Linked DNA regions of Homo sapiens. The protein of the gene in region 1 interacts with the protein of each later gene in a pairwise test. Each region holds a gene or a part of one and is shown on either strand. Other genes may lie near its edges.

Region 1 (3,053 bases):
GAAGTTTATGTTAATATTGTTTACATTAAAGAAACATTGGAAATGTAGTATGACCTTCTTTATGTAATACATACGTAATACAGAAATCGATATACATGTACGTCATATCGTGTATTTACATAAGCATAAGCAAATATGCTTATATATGTTTATTTGTATACATATACAACTATATATAAAAATACAGGCCAGGCGTGGTGGTTCATGCCTGTAATCCCAACACTTTGGGATGCCAAGGCAGTAGGATTGCTTGAGGCTAGGAGTTCGAGACCAGCCTGGGCAACAAAGTGGGAACCTGTCTCTACAAAAATAAAAATAAAATTAAAATTAAAAAATAAAAATACATATATACACAAATATAGAAAGAGATACACCAAATATAAAAGAGATACACCAAAAATAAAATGATTAGTTTGTTTTTAATCTGCATTTTCCTATACATCTAACATGTATATATTACAATTATAAAAACTTCATAAGCAATTTTGTACAAGAACAACATTTATTCCAGTATTTTATAGAATACTGAAATATTGGAAATAGTCTAAATAGTCAACAATAAGGGGTTGACATAATAAGTTGCTGTATCTGTAAGGAGGAATTTATATAACCATTAAAAATTAATATTGCCATAGAAAATACTGTTTTTAAAAACTTGTTACTAAGCTAAATCTGTTATTATAATATACAATAAGACCCTGATTTGGTTTTACTCATATTTTCTAAAGGAAGTACAATAAATTTCCATAGAGGTTTTCTCTATACTGTTAACATTATACCACTTTCAATTTTCTTCTTTGTATAATGTAAAATTTTAATAATAAGCACAATTTGCTCATAATTTTGCTTTTTTAAAAATCAAGGGAAAATATAGTAGGAAATCATAAAATTTGGGTCTTGTCTTGATTGTGCCTCTAGCTGTTTTACTTCAGTACTTCCGTTTTCCAGCCTTCTATTTCTTCATCTATAAAACCAATTTGATTAATTTATCAATTTCTCTAGCAAGTCTCTGACCCCTCTGAAATCTTATCAGTAACATATTTAGTTTTACCTTTTTGATATCACTATTTCGATTTAAAGAATAGGATGGTTTTGGCCAAGCGCGGTGGCTCACGCCTGTAATCTCAGCACTTTGGGAGGCTAAGGTGGGCGGATCACCTGAGGTCAGGAGTTCGAGACCAGCCTGCCCAACATGGCAAAACCCCATCTCTACTAAAAATACAAAAAAAAAAAAAAATTAGCCGGACGTGGTGGTGGGCGCCTGTAATTCCAGCTACTCAGGAGGCTGAGGCAGGAGAATCGCTTGAACCCAGGAGGCAGATGTTGCAGTGAGCCGAGATCGTGCCACTGCACTCCAGCCTAGGTGACAAGAGTGAAACTCTTGTTTCAAAAAAAAAAAAAAAAAAAAAAAAAGAATAGGATGGGTTTGATTCATTTTTCTGTTATTTCTTATTTGTTAAGGCCATATTTTTTAGAAGCTACTTGTGGTTTATTTCTGCAGTTCATGTTCTTTGGTGGAATGAGAGTGCAGATAGTCGTGCAGCTGGGAGACATAAGTCCCATGAGGATCCCAGAGTTGTGGCAGCTGGTAAGCTGTTTGACTAGGCATGAATTATTTTTAGAACAAATGTGTTTCAGTCAGTAACTCTATATGCCTTTCTATGAAATGTTTTTCCAGTTCGGGAAAGTGTCAACTACCTAGTATCTCAGCAGAATATGCTTCTGATTCCTACATCGTTTTCACCACTGAAATAGTTTTCTACTGAAATACAAAACATTTCATTAACTGCTATAGGATCTGTCTGCTAATGGTGCTTAAATTCTCCCAAGAGGTTCTCACTTTTATTTGAAGGAGGTGTTAAGTTAATTTGCTATGTTTCTTGCATTATGAAGGCTACATCTGTGCTTTGTAAGTACCACTTCAAAAAATAGTTCTGTTTACTTTCTGCATGGTATTTCAGTGTCTGTCATACATTAAAAATACTTGTCACTGTTTTAAGATCTTGACTCTTCATTTGTTTCAGAATAGCTCTTCTACTGTATTCTGACAACTCTTTGCTTTATAGCATTTTGTTGTATTCAAATGATAATGGTAGCATTTCCATGCTTGTGACAGCATTTTTAAGTTATTAATATATTTTATCAACCTTTCCATCATGTCTGTTTTCCTGGTTTTTTTTGGTTGTTTTTTGACCAGTAAAATTTATTTTGTAATACCAAATAGGATTTAAGAAAATTAACGTATTTCTTTACTATGGAAAACCACATTGTCATTTGTGACATCATCTATATTAAATATGGTTTTCACATTAGTTATTTGTCACTTACTTGGAAAATGATGCTGTTAGGTCCTGGTATTAAAAATCTAGAAAAGACTTGTTGGTTTATGTGCTGAAATGTCTTTATTTATAATTAATTTTAACTACTATTTACTTCATTTCGGATCCTGTTTAACAAAGATACTTGAGACATCCATTTGTTTTAATGAAATCTGTATGGATATGGAAATGCTTGCCCTAATAAAAGCCTACATATACCTTCTGGTTCTTTTTGTTGAGTTTTATATATTTATCTTTTCTGAAGCTATTGCTGTATTGCTATAAGGTAATGAGACAATACCAATTTACCGTCTTTACTGTAAATATTAAGTTACCTCAAGAAAATTGTATCCCACTAACCCCAGAATCAGAGTTTCTTTAGTACTGTCACAGATGTGGTAGTGTTTTCCTACAAACAACTTTAATTTTTAATTGAGTGCTTCCTATTAAAGTAGATTTGGTACTTCCAAGACTATGAAATCTATATTTACAGCTATGTTATTTTTACATTTCTATGTTATTTTATATTTTTATTTTACACTGCTATTACATATAGCAAAGATAGTAAATTATGAATTAGCCATCTGAGGGAAATTGGAAAAGCAGAAAGTATAGTAACCCCTCATTTATCTAGCTCCCAGGGATTCAAAGGACAGATGAGTTTCCTACTAAGGCAAAGAAGACCCAACACTGGAGGTAAAAACTTATCACGGAAGTTAGAGGCATTGGCTCTGA
Region 2 (3,615 bases), on another chromosome or scaffold:
CGTGAGACTGTGGGCTCACTGAGGGTGGCCACCCTGCTTCGTGTGTCTGGGTAGCTGAGCATGCAGCCCCAGCTTCATACCCAGCCTGTGCTCACAGCATTTGAGGAATGAATGAATGGGTGAATGAATGAGTGACAGACGGTGTGAAGGAATAAGGGAATGTGGGTGTGGGGGAGGGAAGGAAGATGTTCTTTGAGCAGTGACAAGAGCATGGCCTGCAGGGTCAGAGGAGTTTAACCCCAGCTCAGCCACTTCGGACAAGTTACTTAACCCTCTGAGACCTGTTTTCCTCTTTGGAAATTAAAAATAGTAGCATTTTTCAGAATGCTTCGAGGATCACAAATATTTTATCTAAAGGGGGTTAGTCCAGAGTTTTATACAGATGGTCAGCACGTGCCCAAACAAGTGACAGTGGTCATCATTATTCATAAAAATACAAGTGAATGCTGTCAAGGCCACAGTGCTGCAGCAAAAATAAGGTCTTGTGGGAAGAGTGCTGGATCTAGGGGCCATGGGGATGAGCTCAAATCAAATCTCAACTCTGACCCTTCACTCATACCCAACCCAGGAGGGAGACAAGGATGAGCTCCAGGTGGGGGAATTGGAAACATGGCGCCTGGATGGAGAGGGGCCAGTGGACTGCAATGGAGGAGACCTGGGCAGGGGCCCCACTCCACTCCACCTGCATACACGAGGTGACCCCCATAGAGGTAAGCTCTCAATCCTGGGGTCCTTATCAGTAGAGGGTGGATTTTGCCCTGGACAAGCTCTAAGACTCCTCCAAGCTCTTACTGCTTAAGATCTTGAAGCCACAGCTCCCTAGAGGGTAGGAACTCCAGGCTGTGTGCTCAGGCCTGGGGTTAGAGTCAGCCCTATGCATGCCGAGGGGACCCTGGTTGGGCAACTTAAAGTTCAGAGCTGGAGAGCTCAGGGCTTCTGCCCATAGCAGTCAGAGACAGAAACATCCCTTTAACATTCAGCTGGTTCCAGATATGGCTCTCCCAAGCATGTCTCTTACCCGCTTCACAGACTTTATGCATGGATAAAACACTCTGAAGGAAGAAAAGAAAAGAGTTACAAATGATGTCATGGGTGATACAAAGGAAATATGCTCATCTGAAAACCCTGTTACGACAAATGACAAAGGAAATATGCTCATCTGAAAACCCTGTTATGACAAATGACCTCTGAGTACCACGCAGACTGTAACAAACATGTGGAACTCCCAAGAGAGCCAGGGACCCCCTCACAGAAGTCAAGTAAAGAGCGGGCTCACGACCAAAGCTCTGGGCTGAGACTGCCCCAGGGCCCTTGCAGACCTTGGTAATATGAAGACCTAGGTTTATCAGCCAATGGGAACAAGAAAAGAGACCTTGGCCTATGATGAGAAGTTGAAGATGTGATATTCCATGCTCCTCCATGGTAAATCCAGTAAATCTGGGGTCTCTGACATGCTATACCCTCAGTGAAAAAATTGATTAGAAAAAAAATCCCCTCATGATGATAAAGATGTTAAAGGAGTTTGTCTGTTTCAGCTTGGTACTAAGAGGAAACCAAAAGACACCCCCTTGGGAATTCATAGCTCTAGGCCTGCCTTCCCAAGTGCTTGGATTTGAGTTTGCATTCTCTGCATGATCTGGAAACTCTCAAGGTGTGAAGTAAACAAGAACAACAACAACAATAACAACAAAGTGAGCCTGGGTTGGTAATGCCACCAGGATGCCTGGCAGAAGAAATCCTTAACCACTCAAGGGGTCATTTCCTCAAGCCCAATTGAAGCAGATGGGTACAGATTAAGTACTGCTGAAGATGAGCTTATAAACCAAAATTACAAAACCCACACTCACACAAAAAGGCCCCACAGCAAGAGGCAAAAAATGTAGCAAACAGTAAATACGACTCCCCAAAAACATCCAATAACAGAGTTTGCGAGAGGGAGAGAGAGAAACAAGAGAGAATTAGAAATGAATATACTTAAAATAATTGAAAACATAAAAGGAACTGAAAAATAAGAATACAACAAGACTCTATCAAAAGAGATCAGAATGATTTGAAAAAGAACCAAATAAAACTTTCACAAATTAAAAAAAACTATTTATTGAAATTAAAACTTCAAAGACAGGTTAAACTGCAGATCAGACACTGCAGTGTCCAGGACAATTAATTGGCTAAGACAATTAATGTATAGGAGGTTAGACCCGAGGCTGACTCACAAGCAATGACAGAAGTTTCTAAAAGAAAATAACCTAAAATTCTATACTCAGATAAATGATTCTTCAAGATTAAAATTAAGATGTCTTCAGGCACCAAAATGTGAATTTACCACCAACAGACTCTTATTGAGAGAACTACTAAAGGGGATGTTTCAGGAAGAAAGAAACTGAACTCAATGCAAATGAGTGAGATGCAAGAAGTGATCAGTAAAGAAAGTAGAAAATATGGGACAGTTTGAGCAGGCACTGACTGTATATAAAACAACAATAGTGATGATGACTCCTAACACCTAAGACAGGAGGGTGCAGCTTACAGAGTTAAAGGTTTCTAAACTCCTCTGCTTCAAGAAGAGGGTTGGGGACATCAATTAATTTTGTACTTGGGTAAGCCAATTATGCATGTTAAAATGGTAATGGTAATAGCATAATTTCCAAGCCATCATTATTATAATCATTCTCTGACCTTGTGTGTCAACGAGGATGTAAATTTTCCCAGTAGAGTGAGGACCTCAATTACCCTGACTATAGAAATGAAAGAAAAGGAGGCCAGATTGCTACTCCTGGTCCCTGCCACACACTAGGTACCCTACTTCCTTCACAACTGCCCCCTCCTGTTCTTCTGCACCCATCCCCACCCCTCACCTCATCGCTTGCTCTGAAGAGGCTTTTGAAAGTCCGACTCAGGTTCTGTTCCAGTTCAGCCTCAGCCACTCCCTAAAACAATCAAGAAAGCAAAATGAAGGACCCCCTAGAAATCGTGGAAACTGTACCCCTCCTTCATCTGACTGAAAGCAACAAGCACCCTACCTGTGCCCCATCCAGCCCAAGTTTCATCAGAATAGCATCCATTTGAATTTTCATCATAAAACATGTCTTTTAAAAAGGTTAGCATAAAATACAAGATGCTAACTGTAGTTCCCCACGGGAGGCAGGTTTATAGATGCCACTTTCTTTGTGTTTTTCAATATTCCTATAATGAGAAGGTACTACTTATAATAATCTCTTGAAAGGACTTGGGAGGGGGCTGGTAGAGGAATGGGTTGGAGGCTGACTGGTGGTAAGAAGAGAGGGGCTCCAAGGATTCTGAGAAACCAAGCAGAAAAGCCAAAAACTATATACCAAATGCTCTTCCATCCAGGCATCTAAATTTCGCTATATTGAGGCCAGGAGTTTAAGAGCAGCCTGGGCAACCTAGCGAGACCCCATCTTTACAAAGAAACTTAAACAATTTTTTTTTTGCTGTAGAAACTTCAAAATCAACTCCTTTGACTTGGGTCTTAATTGTTACAGACCATTAGATTGCCAATAGATTGTATTCCACAGACAGGGCAGCAAGGTTTCCACTGTTAAAGAGCTGGGACACATAGCCTTCCTGGTGACAAATGACCAGGTCCTTCCAGTT

What was found. Proteins that work in one complex are often made in the same cells at the same time.
Region 2: the proteins of NIPSNAP3A (region 1) and EPHX2 interact in a two-hybrid assay, tested with the Homo sapiens proteins (one large-scale study listed by IntAct).

Annotation. Positions count from the first base shown.
Region 1 is NC_000009.12:104,757,584-104,760,636, forward strand, and holds the end of NIPSNAP3A (protein NipSnap homolog 3A), read left to right. Parts: intron 1-1,501; coding exon 1,502-1,588; intron 1,589-1,678; coding exon 1,679-1,755; 3' UTR 1,756-2,537; downstream 2,538-3,053.
Region 2 is NC_000008.11:27,536,096-27,539,710, reverse strand, and holds part of EPHX2 (bifunctional epoxide hydrolase 2), read right to left. Parts: intron 2,928-3,615; coding exon 2,856-2,927; intron 1,053-2,855; coding exon 1,019-1,052; intron 1-1,018. UniProt on the Homo sapiens protein: Bifunctional enzyme. The C-terminal domain has epoxide hydrolase activity and acts on epoxides (alkene oxides, oxiranes) and arene oxides. Plays a role in xenobiotic metabolism by degrading potentially toxic epoxides.